7 linked regions of the Homo sapiens genome follow. The protein of the gene in region 3 purifies or fractionates together with the protein of the main gene of each other region. This does not show direct contact. Each region holds a gene or a part of one and is shown on either strand. Other genes may lie near its edges.

Evidence for each region.
Region 1: the proteins of ZBBX (region 3) and URI1 purify together in Homo sapiens (affinity purification with mass spectrometry; 2 studies listed by BioGRID and IntAct, with this or other methods). This does not show direct contact.
Region 2: the proteins of ZBBX (region 3) and AMY1C purify together in Homo sapiens (affinity purification with mass spectrometry, with the first as the bait; 2 studies listed by BioGRID). This does not show direct contact.
Region 4: the proteins of ZBBX (region 3) and DNM3 purify together in Homo sapiens (affinity purification with mass spectrometry; 2 studies listed by BioGRID and IntAct, with this or other methods). This does not show direct contact.
Region 5: the proteins of ZBBX (region 3) and CELSR2 purify together in Homo sapiens (affinity purification with mass spectrometry; 2 studies listed by BioGRID and IntAct, with this or other methods). This does not show direct contact.
Region 6: the proteins of ZBBX (region 3) and ZZEF1 purify together in Homo sapiens (affinity purification with mass spectrometry; 2 studies listed by BioGRID and IntAct, with this or other methods). This does not show direct contact.
Region 7: the proteins of ZBBX (region 3) and FAT3 purify together in Homo sapiens (affinity purification with mass spectrometry; 2 studies listed by BioGRID and IntAct, with this or other methods). This does not show direct contact.

The regions. Positions count from the first base shown.
Region 1 is NC_000019.10:29,980,239-29,983,738, reverse strand, and holds part of URI1 (unconventional prefoldin RPB5 interactor 1), read right to left. Parts: exon of another isoform or gene 3,489-3,500; intron 1-3,488. UniProt on the Homo sapiens protein: Involved in gene transcription regulation. Acts as a transcriptional repressor in concert with the corepressor UXT to regulate androgen receptor (AR) transcription.
Region 2 is NC_000001.11:103,752,898-103,756,044, reverse strand, and holds part of AMY1C (alpha-amylase 1C precursor), read right to left. Parts: intron 2,497-3,147; coding exon 2,363-2,496; intron 1,547-2,362; coding exon 1,424-1,546; intron 1,331-1,423; coding exon 1,231-1,330; intron 1-1,230. UniProt on the Homo sapiens protein: Calcium-binding enzyme that initiates starch digestion in the oral cavity.
Region 3 is NC_000003.12:167,300,298-167,303,797, forward strand, and holds part of ZBBX (zinc finger B-box domain-containing protein 1), read right to left. Parts: intron 1-3,500.
Region 4 is NC_000001.11:172,407,998-172,411,497, forward strand, and holds part of DNM3 (dynamin-3), read left to right. Parts: 3' UTR 1-3,500. UniProt on the Homo sapiens protein: Microtubule-associated force-producing protein involved in producing microtubule bundles and able to bind and hydrolyze GTP. Most probably involved in vesicular trafficking processes, in particular endocytosis.
Region 5 is NC_000001.11:109,256,039-109,259,538, reverse strand, and holds part of CELSR2 (cadherin EGF LAG seven-pass G-type receptor 2 precursor), read right to left. Parts: intron 1,108-3,500; coding exon 460-1,107; intron 1-459. UniProt on the Homo sapiens protein: Receptor that may have an important role in cell/cell signaling during nervous system formation.
Region 6 is NC_000017.11:4,014,031-4,017,530, reverse strand, and holds part of ZZEF1 (zinc finger ZZ-type and EF-hand domain-containing protein 1), read left to right. Parts: coding exon 1-160; intron 161-756; exon of another isoform or gene 757-898; intron 899-1,064; coding exon 1,065-1,208; intron 1,209-3,015; coding exon 3,016-3,184; intron 3,185-3,342; coding exon 3,343-3,441; intron 3,442-3,500. UniProt on the Homo sapiens protein: Histone H3 reader which may act as a transcriptional coactivator for KLF6 and KLF9 transcription factors.
Region 7 is NC_000011.10:92,798,318-92,801,817, reverse strand, and holds part of FAT3 (protocadherin Fat 3 isoform 1 precursor), read right to left. Parts: coding exon 1-3,500.

The sequences.
Region 1 (3,500 bases), on a different chromosome or scaffold from region 3:
AGCAGCCTATGCCAAGATGCCCGTCAAACTTTCTCTGGAGACTGGGTTTCCAAAGGGTTCCCTGCTAAGATACAGGCTGCAAGCAAAACTACAGCACTGAATTTTTTTTAAGCAGAAGGATGTTGTCAGTTTTTAAAAATAACAGAAACAAAAATTCACCAACTCAGCAAGTAATTTAAAAGAACATGTAGACATTGTCAAATTGAAATCAGGATAAACTGCAATGTAGGTAACAACTCTCCAGATAATATAAATGACAAACATCACAGAATTGGTTTCAGCTTACTGCTTAGTTCCCTGAAGCAACAGTAGCATAATTAATAAAAAAAAATTAGCTCAGTCTTAAGATCTTAAGGAATTTCACATATATATTATTTTACATAACCTATAATAAATGTCACTTATCAGTATTTTTCTCTTACAGAAGACAAAGTAGAAGGAAGATGGAAAAACCACATAGCAAGAAGCCAGATCTCCTCTATCAAGATGAGGTAAGCAATGAGTTTAACCTAGCTAGGTCTTCTGACCTGCATTCCTTCATGAAAGCTTTCTCATTTTCTAGTGTGCAACTGCTTTATAACTTTCCCCAAAAAAAATCCTTTTCTATAAATAAATACGAAACATGTTTTATTCTTTTGTTTAAGGCAAAAATCCTCCTCCTGGAAAATTTTTATATGGATAAAATGGCAAAAAAACTTCATGCACAAGGCTATGTACCAGAAAGAACATGGCTTTGAAGTCAGACCAGAGAGTGAATCCCAAGCTCTACATGCAATTTACACAAATTCACCTTAGTCTTAGTAACTTCAATGGCAAAATTGGACTAATACTTATCTCACAGGTTCAACAGAATTAAATATAAAAGGTCTAACACACTGCCCAGCATGGAGCAACTACTATTTTGGTTCCAAAACTCAAAACTCATTTTTTTCATGAAGCATCAAAAAACATCAATTCCAAAACTTTCAAGAAAGACTATTACCTACAAGATTTCACTAACCAATTTGATACAAATAGTATAACTTGCTGAAAGACAGTACAGCTGAATGTAACCATTCAGGGGCTTTGGAAACAGGACTGGTGTGAGCAATCAATGGGAGAATGTCTCCATAGGACTGACTGGTACAGTGCCTAGACAGTCAACACTCACTATTAATAACATAACACTAACAGCTTATTTATGTTTCAGATAAGTAATTCTGCAAATGCTCAAGGACTAAATACACCAGCCTAGATATCTAAATATTTCTATGAATATTAAGAAGCTAGTATTAAAGTCACCATTCAATAAGTCTTATTTTGGTAACAATGCTTAGGAGAAAAAAAAACAACTTCCTCACAAAAAACATCTATTTTGTACATTAAAAGAACAGTACGTTCAAAAACAGGCAATACCAGAGATCAATGTCAATATTTCAAGTCAAATATAATCAGTTTTCAACTTATTAATAATTCTCTCTGGAATAAAAATGCGGACATACTGGAGAGCAGTTTAAGATTAGAGTTGCTATTTATAAATTTTGAATTATTTTCTAAAAATACAAAAGTAGAAGATCACTTAAAATGCAGCCCATGTAGAAATCCTTTATGAAGGGAGGCCAGGAGGAGTCAAGCAATGTCTCTGGAAGAAACTACAGCTTGAGGAACCCTCTCTCTCTAAAGGCTACATTCGTGGAAATGTTCAGGGCTTAGTCAAACAGTGATCTCCAAATAGTATCTCTATTATTTCAGGCTTAAATAATCCTGTTAAAGATCACAAAGCCTATGCAACAGAAAATGCAAAAGTTATGCTAAGAACTAATGCATTACTGAGGTTAAGTCTGGGGTCTTTATTTATAACAAAATTTGAACAGATTTTTTTTTCTATTTTAATAATTAGAAACGTAATTAATTTTTGGACACAGGAGTCATTACAGTAATCAAAAATGGTAATTGCTTAAAATAATTTTTCTTCAAATGGAAAACAAAACCCAGATAGAGTTAAGAAACACCTCTCCAGCCTACTTACTTAGAATAGCTAGACCTGCTTCTTTGGCTTCAACATAATGGATCCTTATAGATCAGGTTCCGCCTTCAACTCTTAATTTTAAATTTTTTTCCAATATCCTCATGCAACATTCCTTATACAAAACAAGAACTAAAAGCATAGGTATAAGGCATGTAAGAAACTTTAACCACTTCCTTCTGAATCTTGCTAATCATGTGCAATATGCCTTTTGAGAGTACCTTTTGTTTTAAGGAAATTAAAAAAAAAAAATAGGCAGCAGCGATGAAGACCATTAACACAACCACAAGTTAGCCCTTACCCTTAAAGGATTAAGATCAAGACAGAACCTATGGGAAACAGCTCATTTGCATAAAATTGTAGAAAGTAAGAGAGAAATCAAGTTAAATGAGGGATATGCTCAAGTATTTAGGGGTGAAATACACAGATGTCCACAACTTAATTTGAAATTCATCAGAAAAAAATGGATTAACGGATTAGGGTACAGACAGATAGGTGATCAAGATTCACTCTTCCATATGTTTGAAATTTGTCATAATAGAATATTTTTAAAGGGACGAGGAAATATGAAAGGGATCAACATTTTTAATCCTCTTAAAAGTGACTGACAAAAATAAAAATCTCTATTAAAAAAAAAAAGTCTACATCCTTTGAGGCCAGTGATAAAGACTCCAACCTTTAAATAATAAAAAAGGGAGATAAAATTTAAATCAGGTTGAAACAATAAGACTTTGCTAATTTTACTTTAAAGTAAGAAGTTAAAATAGACAGCAAATACTAACATTGAACTTTTTTTTTTTTTTTTTTTTTTGGAGATGGAGTCTCACTCTTTCACCCAGCCTGGAGTGCCGTGGCGTGATCTCGGCTCACTGCAACCTCCACCTCCCAGGTTCAAGCGATTCTCCTGCCTCAGCCTCCTGAGTAGCTGAGATTATAGGCACGCGCCACCGCACCCGGCTAATTTTTGTATTTTTAGTAGAGACGGGGTTTCACCATGTTGGTCAGGCTGGTCTCGAACCCTGACCTTGTGATCTACCCGCTTCGGCCTCCCAGAGTGCTGGGATTACAGGTGTGAGCCACCATGCCTGGCCCAGTTTTTTTTTTTTTTTTTTTTTTTTTTTAAGAAAAAAAATCTTCTATCACTCTCTTTTCCTCTACCTAACATCCTAAACAGACAAGCAGAAAATACTGTGAGATGCCTAACGGGGAAAGAGGAAAAAAATTTCTATATAAGTGTTAACATCTGAGTTAACCTGGGACAGAGTTAAATTTTTATTTTTTAATTTAAGAAACGATAAAAACGGAAGATTCTGGAATATATACAATATATAACCTTCTTTAGAAATAATTTTTAGTCCATCATACCCACCCTACAACTTCCCATTAAGCATCCAAAAAAGACTTGTTTCAATTGAATCCACCATTTACTGAGCAGCTCCTCTACAACAAGCCTATGGCATATGCTGCAGGGATCATCACTCACACATAGCATGCC
Region 2 (3,147 bases), on a different chromosome or scaffold from region 3:
ATGTGAAAATGCCTTGAACATGACATATGCTAAATAAATATTGGAGGCCGTCATGCTTCTTTTTAGATAAATGTACAAAATACTACATCTGAACATTTTTTTTTATAAATTGACCATATTTTTAGTATTATGCTTTTCTGATTGGCACTTTAAGAAATCTTCATTAAAAAACACAGAGTAACCCTAGGAAGTTTATCAGTGTTCACCTTAAAATCACGTCATATGGTGAAAAGTGAACAAAACTTAAGAGTTTATAGCATGCAGCAGTCCTGTCAAAGTGGGAATGTTATAGTAATAGAAAAAATAAAAGAACTCTCTGACTCCTAACAACAGAAATAAGACCAATTAGTAGAAATTATAAGAAGTTGTCTCAATATAAAAGTACACCTTCTAAATATTAAAGCTGTTTAACAATAGAATCAGTTGTTATACATAGTAGCGGACTTCTCAAACTGAAAGGAATCTAAAAAAAGCTAGCTAGATATCTGTGTGACTCATAGGAAGGAGGAATTTCTGCTTTAGTTCTGAAGTCTCTGATGCTGTTTCTCAACCCTTTAGTTTAAAAGAAAACCTTCTACTAGCTTTCCAAATATCTTTACACTCTTATTTCTCTGTTCCTTTTTGAAACTACTCAGCAGAGTGATGTCTTTACCATACTCCCAAATATTTTTCTCATTCTTACCTTTCTTGGAATACTCTCTATAAATTTCTATCCTTTAGTACATACAATTTCCTTCCTCTTATAGTATACTTTCCCTATTTAACTCAGCTGAACTGGATCATTTGTTTCTATACCATATAACTTTTTAACAGTATTTAAAAGACATTTATATTGTTCTCACTACGGGCAGATGATGTTTTAAGTTCTCTACAAGGGTTGGCATCTATATTCTTCCAATTAAACCTGAGGAAGGTACGAAGTATATATTTTAATCCCTGTGCCTAGCTCTTATTTTTAAGTGGTTTTTTTAATTTTTATTTTTATTTTCCCTGCGGGCTAGGGGGATGTTTGTCATATCTCTGAAAAAGCTTGCTATTCTTTTTCAATGGAGAATATAAAGTTTATTCCTTTAATATAACCTGCATTACTAAATCACAACCCTGTATCAGGTTTACAATAATTAAATATTTGTTGAATAAATAAACACTTAATAGTTGTCATATTAAATTAGGAGAAGATTGCCTCTTTTTTCTTGAGAAAAGGATATTTTGAACAACTCCAAAACTTACTTTTCCATTTTCAAAATATCTTGGCCAACGGTAGCTTGACATTACTCGTGTAAATCCATAAGGATGAGCAAGCATAAATCCAACTGCCATTTTGTACAGCCTGAAAGTTACATAATTATATTATCATAGAATATCACAATATTCATACCATCATTAAAAGAGGTGTTAAAAAATAGAGAACTTGGTTTTCTACCTAGCATCCCAGAAGGTAAGTATAGAGGCTCCTCCAGCGCCATGTCCTCGTTGATTGTCATGGTTATCCACAAAGACAAGCGCTCTGTCAGAAGGCATGAAACCCCAACCTTCTCCCCAGTTCCTATTTTTGAAACATAAGATATACGTTGATGTATCATTTCACAATAGTTTGAGAGTAACTCTACTGTGCATCTCTTTCTGTAAGGCATGGCATCTGAAGATTAAATTCTTTCTCTAATTAGATGGTTACTCTGTAAGATATATATATATACACACACACACACAAACACACACTCACATATATATACACACACACCTCATAAACAAACACACGTGTGTAATCTACATATATATAGTCCATATTTGTATATACATGTATGGAATACTTATATTCATATTACAAATATAAAATGTTTGTTATTAAAAAATTTCCTTTCAGAGGTTTCAGCACATTATCATTTAGAGGCACTCCAGAAGGATCAATATCCACATCACATTATACAGAATGTCAAACTAGATTAAAATAAGGCTTTAATATTGTATTGTTATAATATAAATCATTTTACATTTCCAATTCGTATAAGTAAATACAATAGCATGGACACTTTGTACATACTTTATAAATGATAGGATCATTTTAATAATAACCTGGCTTTAAAAGATTATATGCAAACATCAGTCAAATCCAGTATATTCATCTTGTACGCAGACAGAAACTCCTAGGGTAAGTTTAGCGTTCCTAGGCATACTGTCTTGTGACAGACACTCTAAATACAAAAGATGATTGATTAGAGTTTAGGGCACTAGAATACTTATCATTAACAACTGACTCCTTAATAGTTGTCTGAATAAGAATGTTCCAGAAGATAACTCGCACTGGGGTAGTATGACTAACAGATCTATGAAATAGTTCAGGGGAAAAGTTGTATTTATTTACTTTAAGTAAGACATCTTCTCTCCATTCCACTTGCGAATAACTGTGCCGAGTTTTGCACCATACTTGAATTCTGTCACCCGGCCATTACCAAAGTAGTCACTGCTTTTAATTGGCTCACCACCCAGATCAATTACCTAGAAGAAATTTAGGAAAAAAAAACATTTTGCATAAGGACTTTAAAGCATTTTAACCGATAAGTTTATATTATATAAAAATTAGCTTTCAGCTATTTCTGAGTTATTTTAGACTTGTTGTGCTTTGTTCTTTAGAGACAGGGTCTTGCTATATCGTCCAGGATGGTCCCAAACTCCAGGCCTCAAGGAATTCTCCTGCCTCAGCCTCCCAAAGTGCTGAGTTACATGCAAGAGCCACCACGCCTGGTCCTATTTGTTATATGAAACGCTCAAAATCGTTTTCTTATTCTTATTATCTTCATCGGTAATATTCTTATATTCTTTTTTTGATAAAGTATACACTACAATATTGAAAGAAACATAATGTCAAAGTTACCTGTTGTCCTGTGAGAATACTTACCTAATTTTTAGTCTTGTACATCAATGATAATAATAACAGCTCACAGGAATACGATATTTACTATCTGACTGACTTTTTTTGATAAATATTAACTCATTTCATTTTCCAAAGAAAATAAAGACATAACTATTATCAGTATCCTACATTCTGTGTACCTCCATAAAACCTGTTGTGATAAAGAATTAGATATGCTGTATGTGAAGAAGAGGAGGTTAAAGAACACTGTTTTAAGGAAATGACTCAGTCTTTAT
Region 3 (3,500 bases):
CAAGCTTTACCTAACACTATTTTATTACTGTCCAGGACTACCTTTAGTCTCACCTAATTGAAAAAAAACAATAACCATGTAAGCCATTTTACAACAGTCACTGGTTTTTGATTATGTCAGCAGCTTTGAGCTGCTGAGAACTTTATGGATCCTATGCACTTAAACACTCATTCAGATTGTTTCCTGAACTAGCTCTGTCAGAACATATTTTACACTGAGCAATATTTTATACTGAGCAATGGATAGTCTTAAATTGAATAAAACAAGAATGTATACCAGCCACACACACATTCCCATCTCCCCCACCAACCCTTTTTTTTTTTTTTTACGAGATAAGAGTCTCACCCTGTCACCCAGGCTGGAGTGCAATGGCGCGACCTCAGCTCACTATAACCTCCGCCTCCCGGGTTCAATCGATTCTCCTGCCTCAGCCTCCTGAGTAGTTGGGTAGTTGGGATTACAGGCACCTGCCACCACGCCCAGCTAATTTTTGTATTTTTAATAGAGACAGGGTTTCACCATGTTGGCCAGGCTGGTCTTGAACTCCTGACCTTGTGATCCACCCACCTCAGCCTCCCAAAGTGCTGGGATTACAGGCGTGAGCCACTGTGCCTGGCCTTTTTTTTTTTTTTTTTTAACTTTTAAGTTCAGGAGTACTTGTGCAGGTCTGTTACATAGGTAAATTTGTGTCATGGAGATTTGTTGTACAGATTATTTCATCACCTAGGCATTAAGCCTAGTACCTACTAGTTATTTTTTCTAATTCTCTCTCTCCTCCCACTCATCACCCTCTGATAAGCCCCAGTGTATGCTGTTCCCCTCTATATGTTCATGTCACACACCTTCCTTTTAAGAAACATCTAAACTTAGTGACACACCTGTTACATTAATTGAATAGAGTAGTATGCATTAACATATAAAAGAAGGAAAGGAACCCTGCTGTAAATTATTGGTGCTATGTAAGTCACAGCTATCCTGACAGACTCTGATCAGTTGAGAGTAGACCAGGAATTCAATGGGATGCAAATCATCAGACTATCTAACTAAATGAAAGATTCCCTGAGAAAGTGGATTGGATAAATAGGCAGGGCCTGAGGGCAATACATGTTTCCTTATCCTCTCCTACTGAATTGAAGAGAACGGCAGGAAAGAGTTTTCCCAGTGAATTCCTTTGAGTTTATTACTGCTTTATTACTTTTGAGTCAGATTCATAGTTCATTAATTTTTACTTTTTTCTTGCATTTGGGATTATAAATTTCCCAGTAAGTAGTATTTGAGTTTCATCCTATACATTATTTACCTGTGATGTTTTTGCTTACATTCAGTTCTAAATATTTCTACCTTCTATTTTAATTTTTTCATTAACCTGGACATATTTGGACGGGCGCAGTGGCTCATGCCTGTGATCCCAGCACTTTGGGAGGCCAAGGCGGTTGGATCGCGAGGTCAGGAGATCGAGACCATCCTGGCTAACACGATGAAACCCCATCTCTACTAAAAATACAAAACGTTAGCCAGGCGTACTGGTGGGCGCCTGTAGTCCCAGCTACACGGGAGGCTGAGGCAGGAGAATGGCGGGAACCCGGGAGGCGGAGCTTGCTGTGAGCCACGATGGCACCACTGCACCCCAGCCTGGGCAACAGAGCAAGACTCCGTTAAAAAAAAAAAAAAAAAAAAAAAAACCTAGACATATTTGAATTGTATTAATTTTGTTAGCATTTTGCTATCGATTTATAATTTATTGTATTATGGTTGGAAAACACCGTGTGTAATATGATTTCTTTAGCATTTGTTGAAACTTCCTTTGTGGATTTATTTTTGTAATGTGTTGTAACATGTATTTTGTAAATGTTCCATGTGTTCTTACAAAGAACACACATTCTCTAATTATTGAGTATGTGGTTCAAAATATGTTCTTTAAACTTATTTGTATTGATCAAATCTTCTCTATCTTTACTAATAGAAAATCTTATTGGATTGATGGATTTGTCAATAATACCATGTGGTTTTGTCCATTTTTGCTACAATATATCTGAGGCTATATTGATAGGTACATACAAATTCAGATTTCCTTTAATCTTTCTATTAAATAGTTGATTTTATCATGTACATAATGGTCCCCTTTACCCTGATAATGTTTTATTACCTTAAATTTTTTTTTAAATTAGTGCTTGCCTTTACTCTGAAATTCCTCCCCCCACCCCATGTTTTAAGCAGGTTTCTGGTAAAATAACTATACACACACACACACTATCCACATTTATTCTAATTACTTATATGATTGGGTTTATTCCCGTCAGCTTTACTCTTTCTACTTGCTGTCAAGAATTGTGAAGGGTCTGAGATTTTATCCTACGTGCAAGCCTGTTATAGTTTCATGGATGCTGGACGAAGACACAAGACTCCTTGGTCAGAGACAAATGACTTTATCACTCACAACAATAGCAGTTGCCAGAGTATCATCATTTGCACCAATTCCCAGAACCCAGTTTTCACAGGACATCATGAAGAGAGCCACGTGACATCTGCACATACCCTGAGCTGTGTTACAGGAGAGAAATCCTGATCTTAGGAAATCCAATTATTTTATACTGGGCAGTAAGCCTGCCTGACCTTTGCCAGAGGAAAACATTATTTTTATTACACCAGACAGTAAACAAACCTAGTCTTTGCTCTGAAGAGGGACATAATCTCTATATTTCAAGGCTGTTATCTATACAAGCACCCTTGAAAATATACTTTGGAACAAATAGAGTCAGTGGTTTTGCTCAAAAGATGTGCAAAAAAACATGAGAGACCCAAGAGGAATTGTACACCCAATACTTAACTATACTATTTTTCCTTTGATGCATTTATTTCCTGACTGTTTTAATTAATTGGATTTTCTATGGTCCCCTTTTCCTTTAGTATTTTGGATGACATACATTATGTCTGTAACATTTTAATTGTTACTCAAAGTATTTAACATGTATAACTAAAACACTAAGTCAACAATCCCTACAATGATCTCTACCTTCCTTTATAATACAGAATCTTAGTACTTTTAACTCTAATCATACATATCTAACAGTCTTACAAGTTATGGTACATATTATCCTCATTCAAATTTCTTCTTTTATAATTCTCAAATTGGGCATTCTAATAATTATTTTGTAATACATCTAATATATTTGCCATTTTCCCCTCACACCATTATTTCTTGCATCCTACTTCTTCCTTCCAGGTTTAATTTCTTCCTTTTTTAAGTATATCATTCAGATGTTCATTCAAGAGGCGAAATAACTAAATTACCTGAATTTTTCTCTAAACTTGCCATTATTTTATTCTTGGTCTTGAATGAAAGTTTTGCAAGCCTTAGAATTCTAGATTGTTAGTCAGTTCTATTGGAAGTTTAAAGATAATGTTCCACTGTGTTACACTGTTGAGGCTATCTGTTGCTGTGCATGAGAATTTAATGTCAATCTAGTAATTGCTCTTTGGAGATAATTATCTGTTGTCTT
Region 4 (3,500 bases), on a different chromosome or scaffold from region 3:
TGGTATGTCAAACCTTTGGGGTTTGACTCAGAAACTGCTAACCTTTTAGAGGCTTTATATGTTGTACTGACCAAGGTAGGTTTGTATAGCAGCCCTATACTTTGGGGATCATTTGCCTACCATGGCATATATTTGAAATTGCTTTGGACAAGTTTTCTAGGCTATCTACCAGGTAGCTCATTAAACGTAATTCTTCAGATATGAGATAGTGGGCTTAGACCTAAGCCATACATATTTCTTTTCCCACATTCTGTTTAGGATGACAGTAATTCTGTTGTCTACCATTAATGCTACTACCTACTCCATAATTGCCTATTTAGCTCCTCTTTTCTTCCTTTTTATTTCATAAGACTGCTAGGAAGTGATTTTTTAAAATTAGGACTCCTTAAGAATAAACTTTTCCAGAAGCACGAGGTAGTTTGCAAAGGAAAAGTCTGCACTGTTTGCTCTAAAGAGCTTCTCCTCATTCCAATGTGTTTTGCTTCATGCTAGAAGCATATGCAACAGTGAATAAAAGCTTCTTTTTTTGTTAATCAGTCAATAAATTTGGCTAATTAGTTTCAGAGTTCAAGGAAGAAGCAAAATATCACATCTCTAGAAGTGTTGGGAAAAATATAATTTCTTTCTTTACTTATATTCACCTCATGGTAGGTTATATTGAAGGCTGACATGGAGAATGTTTACTTTTCTATTTGGCATAGCTAACTACACTTTGATACTAACTCCAGTTTTACTATTATTATTTTGGTTGGAAAAAAAATTCACTCTTTACGTGCTAATTTGTAATCTTGTTTTGTAAGAATTTATCCTACCCTTGAAACAGGCTCAGTGTAACTGTATATCCATTCTAGGCTTTCTTAATAAATCTTGAGGCTATGGGATAATCACATTTAAAGAATGGTTCCTGAAATGAAGTCAGTAGAAATGGCATGGGATAAGAGCAGAGCTCACACTTTTACAGTTGCAGTATTTCAAAGTCCCTATCCAGGTCACTCCAGAAAAGGGTATTGAAACGTTGAAATCTAAAGCAAATTTGCAATTTCTTAAGATTTCTAAAATTTACCAGAACAGTTTAGCCTGGGGGTTAATAGTTAAGTCTTGAGGCTAAGTTTTGGACTACCAAGGACCAGATGATTCACATGTAGGAAACAGCCAGAAGCCAACTGGAATTTTGTGTGCTAACTGTTCCCAGACAGCAGAGCAAGTATTCACTGAGTAGGGGTGTCCCATGACACTATTTCATATTCTACAGAAGTAAATCAGGTTTCACCAACTGAAATGTCTCCCTTTGAAAGTAGCAAACATGATTTGTATGTTAACTTAACTTTAATTTCCTGTGTAGTTTACACCCAGAGCAGATACTCATAAAGTATAAAGTAAAAACTTTTAACCATTATTAAACAGAGAACTTGCCATGTTGAGTGCCATTGTATTGAACTTATTCTAAAGGCTTATGCTAACCCATTTATAATTGGTAAAAATCAGAAAATACAAGATTTACATAAAGGTCATTTCAACTTTTAAGGTTACCAGTGATTGTATAAAAACATCACAATCCTAAATCCTCTCGTATCTCACCCCAAACCCCAAACTGGGGGAAAAAAAGTTAACTCTTTGTGAATGGAACCAATGTGCAAGATACATACTGCATTTTTAAAATAGTGTCTCAGCTAAATGGAAAACTGTTAAGCAAACATCCATAGTAAAACAAATAATCTTCAGTGAGATCTTTTTATAAAACTTCTTGTTTTTAGGATTCCCTTTGCTTCTTCCTTTGAATTCTCTAAAATAGGCAGCTAACGGATTATATACTTCAGGGTTTGGCTTTGTGCTAAATGTGGTTTTGTGTTTTGCTGTATTTCAAAATTTTCCTTCTGTTAAAGGAAAATATTGTGAATAACCACTGGTGTGTTCTTAGATCAGCACAAACCATGTCAAAAAAAATTGGAGATTTTTTTCCAATTTTCCTTCCACTGATCTTAGGCAGTAATAAACAATGGCATTTGTCATCTTTGGCACTTGCTTTTAGATTATAGTCCCACAGTTGCACTGCCCCAATTGTCTACCTTTGTGGGTACATTTTTGTTCTTTACTCCTAAGTTATTTCTCATAGAACCCAGCCTACTCTAGAATTTCAGCAGTGACATTGGAGAATATTTTTAATTTGCTGCAGTACTATGTCATATTATTAGTATGAATCTCATTTCCCAAAGGGTTTGTATTCTGCTAAAAGGAGATGCCAATGTTGAATGAAGTCTGAAACTCTAGTATGTGCATAGTTTGACGTGCAGCATGCACACCAGGCCTTAAGATGGGAATGTAGCTTAATGATTTTCTGTTTCCCATACCATTTCTAATCTTTTGTGTAATTTTCTCTTAACTGATTGCTCTGATATTGTAAACACAATAGATGTAGCTCTATCATGTCTAGCATAATTTAAAAAATCAGTGTTTTTAGGATTTGGGAAAATAAACTGTAAATGTTTATTTGATAGGTAAATATAGTTTTATTGTCACATGCTAAATATTGCATGCATATTGACTAATTGGAATAACCATTTACTCAATTATGGACAGCTTATTGAAATAGTATTGATTTAGAAAAAGTATATTGCATTTCTAAAAAACATCTACCAAGGTTACTCGTCTGAATATTGCTTTTAGCCGTGTTTTATAACATAGACGAGCAGTAGGGTCTGTTTATTAGCAAATTTCCTATTTGTTCCAATACAAACTCACTTTATTCTAAAGTATATTAATGAAACCAGTTCCTGTGATGTAACTGTAAGCCTTCTCGACTTAGACTTAAAAAGTGGTCACATAGATTAATTTTGTGACTTTTTAGTATAGACTGTAGCCATAATTCTCAAATATGAAATGGGACCTAATACCAGTATGTGATAAATGTTGATGTTTTCTGTGTACAAACACATTTTCTATGCATGTGTCTCTGTGTATATGGCATATACCTAGTAAGTATGTTTCTGTAAGTATGTGTATTTTATGTCCATTTGAGTAGGTAGGTAGGTTTTAAAAATACTAGTTAAAATGCCACAAGCATGAGTGTGATTGTATGTGCACTGTGTGTATATATATAAATATATGTATATGTATGGTTGTAAATATCTATGTATACATGTACTTAGTATGTGTGGTATCAGGATATTTTTTAAACTGTGATAATACAACAGATAGCTTTGAATGATCTGCCATAACATGTGGTAACAATAGTTCATTTCTCATAACATATATGAGGTATACAAAATTTTCTAACTCCAGATTGTAGTCATTTTGAGAGGTACAAAGCTCATAATTACCATGACAACATGGTAATGTCCATAGACATTTGTATCTGAATCCACAAGAAGATCTGAATCTAAGAAGGAATTACCTTTGACAATATTTTTCGGTAAGAAGTAAAACCTCTGGAGACCTATCTTTAAGATCTCTAATTGGAATTATAAATTATTTTTGGATTGCTGAGCTGAATCTTAAAAAGC
Region 5 (3,500 bases), on a different chromosome or scaffold from region 3:
TCAGCGTTCCCTTAAATCAAGGCCAACACCTTCCATGCCACCAGCTGTTTCCAAGTATCAAATTAATTACATTAATCCTCACAACCAACTTATGACCTAAGTACGGTCATTATCTCCATTTCAAATAACCGAGGGCCAGAAAGGTTAAGTAACTTGTTCAAGGTCACACAGCTACTAGCGGCAAAGCTGATACACGAACACAGGCCGACTGGCTCTGGAGCCAGCTCTGCCCACAATGGCACTGCCTGTGTGTCCTGTGCACAGCAGGGAGAAGCACTCCTTGCACTGCCTTCCTCAGTGGGGTGCTGTCAGGGAGCAGGCCGGATTTATGACCTCTCAGTGTAGCTGCACCTCACTCGGGAAGAGAATGAGGCAGCCGCCAGCATTTGTCCTGATTTGTGCCTGCACCACACAGTCAGCCTTCCAGGGCTGGCCCATGAGTCCCCTCCCTTGGCTCACCCGTGTAGCCATCACGACAGAGGCAGGTGTAGCCGCCCTCGCGGCTGCGGCAGCGCCCGTGGGGGCCACAGGGCCGCGAGTAGCAGAGGTCCACCTCGGTCTCGCAGTAGTCACCCGTGAAGCCGGGCGGGCAGCGGCAGCGCAGCCCTCCGACGGGGTGGATGGGCCGGAAGAGCACGGAGGAGGAGGCGATGAAGGGCGCGGAGGAGTCGAAGCGCAGCACCGACACGCAGCGCATGTAGTTCTCGCAGGGCTCCCGCAGGCAGATGTTGTCGTCGAAGGGCAGCACGCGCTGTGCCGAGATGGCCGTCAGCAGGCTGCGGTTGAGGTATAGGCGCTCCTGCAGGTCCTCAGAGGGCAGGAAGGGCGGCCCGCCCCCGGGCCCTGGCGGCTGGCCCACCGACAGGCTCACGTTGAGGATGTGGCCCCCGGGGGCGTCGGTGTCCCGCTGTACGTTGAAGACCACCACGTGGTCCGGTGGCGTGGCCAGCGTGGCGGCCACCGCCTGGATGAAGAGGCCTAGCAGTGGTGACAGGAAGCGCTCGGGTGACATGTCCTCCAGGCGCAGCGTGATGCTGTGGGTGAGCATCTCATCGGTGATGATGGTCACACGCAGCGCGCACTGGGCGGTCACGCTGTGTACGCCGTCTGTGGAGAGGGACACAGTCAGGACCCAGCCTGGGGCTGCAATTCAGCCTGCATATTCCTGCACCACCCACCAAGAAAGGCTCTCCTTTCCAACTGGCATAAGGGTGCTGAGCCAGGTATGTCACGTGTGGGCCAATCACTCCTTCAGGGCTCAGGGGATGAGATTTGCAGTTCTCTTTGCATCCTTTCCCAAAACCTTCTGTCGCTGATGCACGGCACACCTCTTAATGTTTGTGCACCTTTCCCTGCCCAAGCCACCGCTCCTGCTCCCTTCCCCCAGAGTCTGTGCTGCCTGCGCGGGAACCCTATGTTGTCTTTTTCATACTTTTCTACAGGGCCCAGAGCATCCTGAGACCCACAAAAATCATCCCCCTGCCCCCTCAGCCTCTACACCTCAACACCACGATAATCGCAACCATGGCTGTGTTCCCCACTCCCCCACAGCAGCAGGGAGTTGGCGGGGGTGGGGGGGAGTGGGTAAACTGGGTCAGTGGGCCACCTAGTCCCCCTCCCACTGAGCCCCATGGCTGCTTGGGCGCGCAGACCTGCTATCCCCATGGCAACATCCAACACAAAGCATTCTTCCCGCCCAACTCTCTGGGCTGCTGTGGGTAGCCTGGGGGGCCCCACCCCAGGAAATCCAGCTGAGCCACGTTAACCAGTGACATCATCACCCACTGCCCCATGCTGGAGACAGGGTGAGTCGGGGTGGGGGACCGGAAGGCAGAGATAGAAGGGCCTGGGCAGCTCTCCACTCTGAGACCCCAGAGCCCCACTGAGTCAGTCTCTTCTCTGGTCCTAGGGCCTCTAGCTACTCATCACCCACTTGGCTCAACCATTACACCCAAATGCCTGCTATGCCCCCAGGCAACACACTCACTTATAAACAGCTAAGCACTAAAACACACTTGCTGGTGTCTCATTCCACCCACACACCCTAAGCCCAGAAATACCATACACACCTGAATGCACATACACATGGGAATGAATTTTATTTAGCTAAAAAATGAAAGCTGGGGCCTGGAGAAGGAGGAAATGGCTTTACAGGGCAAGAAGGGATAGTCTTTTTTTTTTTTTTTTTAAGAGACAGACTCTCTGTCGCCTACACTGGAGAGCAGTGGCACGATCATAGCTCACTGTAGCCTCGAACTCCTGGGCTCAAGCGATCCTCCCACCTCAACCTCCCAAATAGCTGAGACCACAGGTGCTCACAACTATGCCTGGCTAATTTTTGTTTGTGTGTAGAGATGGGGTCTTGCTGTGTTGTCCAGGCTGGTCTCAAATTCCTGGCCTCAAGTGATCCTCCATCTCAGCCTTCTAGAGCACTGGGATTACAGGCATGAGCTACTGGCATATTCATATTTGTATTTATTACAATGCCTTACACATAGTAGGTGTTCAGAAAACACTGAGATGTGGATGACAATCTATTCAGTCTCCACAAAGAATAAACGGACTTTAAAACATAGCAGGGGGCCGGGCGCAGTGGCTCACGCCTGTAGTCCCAGAACTTTGGGAGGCTGAGGCGGGTGGATCACGAGGTCAGGAGTTCGAGATCAGACTGACCAACATGGTGAAACCCCGTCTCTACTAAAAATACAAAAATTAGTTGGGCGTGGTGGTGGGTGCCTGTAATCTCAGCTACTCAGGAGGTCCCAGATACTCAGGAGGCTGAGGCAGGAGAATTGCTTGAACCCAGGAGGCAGAGGTTGCAGTGAGCCGAGATCGCGCCATTGTACTCCAGCCTGGGTGACAGAGTGAGACTCTGTCCCAAACAAACAAACAAAACCACATAGCAGGGGGAGCCCAACTAGATATAAAAAGCAAATGCTTACCCTAGCAGTAACGGGGCAGGAGCCCATGTTTCTGGGGTGGGGTGGGAGTAGGCAAGGGACATGGGAACAAATTCTGCATCTGTGTTGTACCTACTTGCGGTGGCTGACTGTACCAGCGGTGGCTCAGCTGAAGCCGGGAAGGCTGAAAGCAGACCCCCATCTCAGCCATGTCCTCAGCCGACTGCCCACCTACCCTCCAGCCTCATCACTTGCTTATTCTCACTAGCTCTCACCAGCAAGCCTGCTTGTCATCACCCACTTCTGTTCCTCCTGCTCTCGTCTCAAAGCTGCTGCACAGGCTGTTCCTTCCCACCCAGACACCAGCCCACAGTCCTCTGAGTCTTCTAACCTGCCCTAGCTCACCTGCTCCAGGAAGCCTGCCCAGATTTATGTCATCAGGCTCTACTTTCCTCTCCGTTTCAGACTTCCCCGCACCAGGATGCTCAGCTGGCACAGAGCTCTTGTATACCTGGTATATCTGCCTAATGATTCCTTGACGGGATATTCCCTCCAGGCAGAAAGCAGCCCAAGACTCCACACACAGTGCCCATAACTGAT
Region 6 (3,500 bases), on a different chromosome or scaffold from region 3:
AGCTGTCCTGTACGCCCGCCACGTGCTTGCATCCCTGCTCGCCGAGTGGCCTAGCCACGTGCCAGTGAGCGAGGACATCCTGGAGCTCAGTGGCCCTGCCCATATGACCTACATTTTGGATATGTTCATGCAGCTGGAAGAAAAGCATGAGTGGGAGAAGGTAGTTATGCAGACTGAGCTTGTGCTCACCCACCAGGTTCTTCCTCTGCCCCACAGGCTTCCTCCAGTGAGTGCTTCCTGGAGCGAGGCTACCTGTGTGGCTGTGCAGCTCCCTGACAGGTGTGAATGCAGCAAAGGTAGGGTCACTGTATCCTCTCCCAAGGATTGGGCTAGTGAGGAACTCAGGGGCCCTGAGCGCGATTTCCAGCTGAACCAGAAAGCTTTGTCGCCATCTTCCCAGTTTCCAAGTGCAGAAATCTTGAGGCACATTCGGTAGCTCCTTTTTGATCCTGTCCCTCACCCACCTTCACACACACACACGCAGTCCATGAGGAAGTTCATTTGGCCTCTCAGCCTTGCTTTGTCCATCTGAGAACACCACCAGACCTCGAGGTCTTTTCCCGGCCTTGCAGCCCTGCAGGTGCTGGCAGGCTTGCTCTAGCATATCTATCTTTCGGAAGGGACAGAGGGAGCCACCCTGCCTCTACTAGGCCCTTGCATAGGCGTGTCCTCCCACAGTTCTTGCCACCTAGAGCTCCCAACCCTGCACCTCACTCCAGGCATCGATTACATTGTGTGGTCATTATTTATCCATAGGCCAATCCACCTGCTTGGCTGGGGACTCCTTCAAGGACCAGGACCCTTTATGATTGGTTCAGTTAGTTCTTTCAGACCACCTCTAAGTAGCATCATTCTGAAAGGACTGCAGTGTCCTGATTGACACCAAGAGCCTGGTCAAGTGAGAGGTGGCTGGTGGAGTTGGTTTTGGGTGGTGGAGTCACAGAGGCTCGTCCTAGGTCTAAGATGATGCCAGCACCTTTGGGTGGAGCTTGGGTTGAAGTAAACTGTCCCTTCTTCCTGATGCCACTTGCAGGCCCTGACCTTATCTGTCTGCTTCCCACCAGATCCTGCAGAAAGTGCTCCAGGGCTGCCGAGAGGACATGCTGGGGACCATGGCCCTGGCTGCATGCCAGTTCATGGAGGAGCCAGGAATGGAGGTGCAAGTGAGGGAGTCGAAACACCCGTATAACAACAACACCAACTTCGAGGTAAGCCTGGGGCCGGCAGGCCCCATAAGAGCGACTGAGCCGCAGAGACCTCGTCAGCCCCTCCGTGCTCAGCCCCTCCATGCTCAGCCCCTCTGTGGCTCTCTCCCGCTGGACAGCAGAGACCTGTCCAGGAAAGTGCTTCCTTGAACAAACTGCAGTCTGCCTCCCTGAGGCCAGGGATTCTGTACAAGCAAGTCTTCTCTTCTCCGGACTTTTCTTGTTTTAATAGAAGAAAATGGGCCACCTAGCCCTGGAGGAGAGCTTTACTTTCCCTGCGGCAGGCTCCTCAGAGTGAGTCCTTGGCTTCACAGTGAGACAGTGAGTCTGAATGTGGTCCAGGTTGGACCCTCACTCTTCAGCTGCCACCTCATGACCTGCCCCCACCGTGGATACTACAGCCCCTTTTTAAAATTTCCCAGAACTGAATCAGAGTCTCATCTTTTCCATCCTTAACTTTGTGCCTGGGCAGGGAGGTAGGCATTTTGATGAGGCAGGAATGGGGCAGCCTCCGTTATTCTCATTGACTTAAGGCCATGTAGTCCCTTTAGCACTTTTTTTTGAGACGGAGTCTCACTCTGTCGCCCAGGCTGCAGTGCAGTGGTGTGATCTCGGCTCACTGCAACCTCCACCTCCCGAATTCAAGTGATTCTCATGCCTCAGCCTCCCTAGTAGCAGGAATAAAGGCACCTGCCACCATGCCCAGCTAATTTTTGTATTTTTAGTAGAGACGGGGTTTCACCATATTGGCCAGGCTGGTCTCTAACTCCTGACCTCAGGTGATCCACCCGCCTTGGCCTCCCAGAGTGCTGGGATTACAGGCGTGAGCCACCTCACCTGGCCCCCATTAGCGCTTTTAAAAATGTTGGAGAGAAAACTGAAATGTTGGAGTTGCCCAGGCATCTACTTCTGAGTGGAAGGCACCTGCAGCAGCGAAGGTGGATGATGAAAACCGATTTAGAACTGGGTTATTGGCCAGCTGAGATTTTGTTTTTCAGAAGTATAACCTGTCTTTCTTCCAAGTCTCTTCTCTTGTCATGTTCCTGGGCTCCAGCCCCACTCCCTTGGTCCCATACAGGCACATGTGGTCAGCCACCAGGTTCGATCCCAAAGAGGTCTTGTCTTCTCCACTGACCCTGGACACCCGTTGCCCTTCTCTGGGGTTCCTTTTGCTGCTACTTTCTGATTTCCTCACTTTTGCCTCAGCCCAGCCTTGCTCCACACCAGCTGTCAGTGATGCTACACTGTGCAAGCCTCACCAAAGCTTTCCAGGGTTTTCCCTGTTGTCCAGAGTCTGAGTGCCTCATTTTCATGCCCAGGGCCTTCAGTGTCTGCCCCTGCCAGTCTCTCTGGAGTCAGGTCTTGTCCCTGTTCCTGCTTCCCAAGCATACGTGCCCATGTAGCACACCCTTTACTCCAAACACGCCAAGCTCCTTGCCATTCCCTGAACATGCTAGACCTTCACAGGGCTGTTACCCTGTCTGAAATGCACCCCATGCACTCAGGTCCACCTTGTCTCCCACTCCCGCCTTCTCCTAACAGGGTCCTCCTGTCCTCTTCACTCTTCACAGCAGCCTGACACTCTTTCTCTGGGGCCCCGTGTTGCCTGCCCCGCTGTGCCTCCCTCGCACCATATTTGCAGTCTGTGCATGCTCCTCGCCCTAGCTGGACTCTGCACTCCTGGAGGCCAGGGCTGTGGTTCACTCATTCTCACACACCCGGGTCCAGCCACAGGACTCGGCATGGGACAGCTGCAGTCAGTGTCTAGTGAGCAGCATCGACAGATGTGTTCTCCATTTCCCCTCCCTAGGATAAAGTTCACATTCCTGGTGCCATCTACCTCTCAATCAAATTCGACTCTCAGTGCAACACAGAGGAGGGCTGTGACGAGTTAGCCATGTCCAGCAGCAGTGACTTCCAGCAAGACCGACACAGCTTCAGCGGGTCTCAGCAGAAGTGGAAAGATTTTGAACTTCCAGGTAGTGAAACAAATACTCGATTAGATAGGTTCTTCACAGGCAGTGTTTAAACTTAATATTGAGAAGGGAACTTACTGGAGAATGTTGAAACCCAACACCACTGCTGCCATTCCCTGTTGCTTCAGTTCCTGATGGGCCTCTGATCCTTGTGTGCCTAGGAGACACTCTGTATTACCGCTTCACCTCCGACATGAGCAACACCGAGTGGGGCTACAGATTCACCGTGACGGCCGGACACCTGGGGCGGTTCCAGACAGGTGTGTGCTCTGGGCTTTGCGTTCACACCATCTGCCTGCCAGGGACACTCCATGGCTGT
Region 7 (3,500 bases), on a different chromosome or scaffold from region 3:
TCCTTCACATTCCCTCGGTACACTTCCTGCGCGAAGACTGGTGCATTGTCATTTATATCTGTCACTCTGACAGAGACCAAGGCCGTGGAGGAAAGAGAGAATGCCTCTCCAAGGTCAGAGGCCACCACAGAGAAGGTGAATGTGGGGTCTGTCTCGTGATCTAGGTCCTTCAAGGTACTGATCCAGCCCGTGTTGCTGTCAATATTGAATGCTTCCATTACCTTTTCGGGCTGGGAATCCGAGTGGAGGGAGTAAGTGACTTGTCCATTGGCTCCCCAGTCCATATCAATAGCTCTCACTTGTGTGAGTTTGGTGCCAACAGGCATCCCTTCCATTATAATGGTGTCATAGCTTGAAGTTTCAAAGACTGGCTTGTTGTCATTCAAATCCAATACCTTGATATCTACATCCACAGTAAACACAATGTCTACTTTGTCCAGGGGTATAGTGGCTGCTACTTTAAAGTGGAAAGCTGGGCTGGTTTCACGGTCAAGGCGTTTGTCAAGCTTAATAGTGCCTGTTTCCTGTTCTATGACGAATATGCCCCCTTTGTTATTTTCTGGCCGTTCCCCATTAACTGTGCTGAACCAGACATTCTGACTGGGCAAAATCCTCAGGGTGTCCACTGTACTCCCAATGGCTGTATCTTCTGCAATGGTAAAGGAATACTGAGACTGGGTGAATGATGGCAAGAACGTTTCAGGGGGCAAGACGTGGATATAGACAGGAATGAGGGAGTGCTTTACTGGGATGCCCCCATCTACTGCTTTGACAAAGAACGAAAGCACTGTATTTTTCAGCTGGTTAAAATTACCCTTTGTGACCATCCAGCCATTGTCAGGATCGATTTCCAGGAGGTCGGCCACTGAAACAGAGGCCTCGCTATAGAGGGAATAAGTAATCCTTGAATTTGCTCCATCATCGGGATCTATGGCTTGAACTTGAGTGACCAAGTGGCCCCTTCCAACATCTGCCCTGACACTGGCTCTATATTCCACTGTCATGAACTGGGGAGCATTGTCATTTTCATCCACAACAATCACTCTCACAGTGCAGAAAGTTGTTCTCCCTCCACCATCAAGGGCCCTCACAAAAATACTAACATCCCCTTCTAGAGGGTTTTCCCGGTCTAGCCTTTCTGTGGTGATGACCTGCCCATTGCTGTCTATGAGGAATCGATCCTTGGCAAAGTCATTGATGATGGCATAGCTGATCTGCCCATAAGTCCCTGGATCACCATCTGTGGCTCGAACATGAATTACCTTTGTTCCTGCAGCCACGTTCTCTCTCACCTCAGCTACGTATGTGCTTTGTGAAAAGGCAGGGCTGTACAAGTTAGCCCCAAGTACCCTAATATGCACCTGTGCAGTGCTGGTGAACAACCCATCAGAGACAGACACATTGAGACTGTACAGAGGCTCCATCCGCTGCTTCCGATGGTTGGACAATGTGATAACTCCACTCTTGCTGTCCATCAGAAAGCTCGTCCGGTCATTCCCAGATAAAATGCTATATTCCAACCGGTCAAAATCAGAGCTGTCTGCATCAGAGGCTTGTACACAGGTTACAAAATGGCCCCGGGGGGCTAATTCACTCACATATGACTCATAAATGAGCTGATTAAAAACTGGAGGGTTGTCATTTACATCAGAGATGTAGATATGAACGAGAACCTCACTGCTCAGTGATGGGAAGCCACTATCTATTGATCTGACTTTCAAAGTGCAGTGTTGTACTAACTCATGGTCCAGCATTCGTGCTGTCAGGATTAAGCCACTTGAGCTATCTATGTGAAAATAATCTGTGCTATTGTAGGTATCCTGGACAATCTGATAATGTACCATTTTATTGTTTTCTGAGTCTGCATCAATAGAGACAACTTGTAAAACAGGTGTCCCAATAAGAGATGCTTCTGATAGTGTTGTATTGTATGTAGGCTGATCGAAAATAGGGGGGTTGTCATTTACATCATTAACTAGCAAGTCAACAGTGACTTCAGCCCTAGCACCAGTAAGGGCGTCGCTGGCTCTTATTGTCAGCTTGTAAGCAGATGTAACTTCATAATCCAAAGGGCTAACAACTTTCAGGACCCCAGTGTCAAAGTCAATGTTAAACTGTTTAAAAGGGTCCCCATCGATAATGATATATATGATGCCTTGGCCTTCTGGACTGGTGGCATTGATGCTTAGGATGGGTGTGTTCATTCTGATGTCTTCATTGACAGATGCTGTATAAAAGGGCTTATCAAACACAGGCATTGCTTTGTTGACAATAGTGATGGGAAGCTCCACAGATGTAGACAAAGAAGGTTTTCCGCCATCCTTGGCTAGGATGGTGACTCCATACTCAATGTTGGACAAGTCAGAGTTGAATGCTTCCTTTAAAATAACATTCCCTGAATTAGGGTTAATTTCAAAGTGGCCATAGTCATCCTGCAGGACATAGGTCACTTCTCCATTTGGACCTTTATCTTTGTCAATGGCTGTCACCTGATAAATCAGAGTCCCGGGTTCCGCATCCACTTGAACAGCAGCATAGTATGGGAGGCCCACAAAGACTGGAGAATTGTCATTTATGTCTTCAATGTTAACCCTGACCACCACTCTGGCCACACGCAGATGGTCCAGCTCACGGCTGGCTTCTACCACCAGCTCATATAACTCTTGTTCTTCACGGTCAAAGGGGACTCCAGTCGTCTGAATGACCCCTGAGGTAGATTTTATCTTGAACTTATTTCCTGGGTTTAAGATGCTGTATTTTAAGGGCTCATTAAGGCGATTTCCAACTGCATTGACAATAGCAACTTTGGTTATGTTAGTGTTGTTCTCTGAGATTGAGGTGGAATAGAAGCTTTGTGTAAAGTGGAGGCCGCTGTCCATGGCTTCTTTAACCATGATGGTGACCATGGAGGTACTGTAGAACTTTCCATCAGACACCTTAACTATCAGCATGTAGTGATCCTTGGAGAGGTTGTTGTTTTTTATGGTAAGTACTCCACTGTTTGAGTCAATTAAAAAATGATCCAAACTGCCTTCCATTAGGCTGTATGTCAGTTCAGGGGGTACCTCAGAGTCAGGATCTGTGGCACTAACTTTCAGAACCTCCACTCCAACATAGGTAGGTAGAAGTAAGATAGTCTCAAACACAGCCTGAGTAAAAACAGGTGGGTTATCATTCACATCTGTCACCTCAATGTTGACTTCAACGGGACTCTCTGCAGTCAGTTGGGGGCTACCACTGTCTCTCACATGCACATGAAAATGGAAATGGGCAATGGTTTCATGGTCCAGGTTGGCAATTGTTCTGATTGCACCTGTACTGGAGTCCACCGTGAAAAACTTTTTTGCTGTTGACTCCACAATCTGATACACAAGCAGAGCATTCCGGTTGCTGTCAGCATCTGTGGCTCGAATCACCAGTGGGCTGTTATCCAAGCTCCTGACAATGCTATTAATTGGGGCAGCCTCACTTAGGCTGCCTGAGTATTGAGAAAAGAGAAA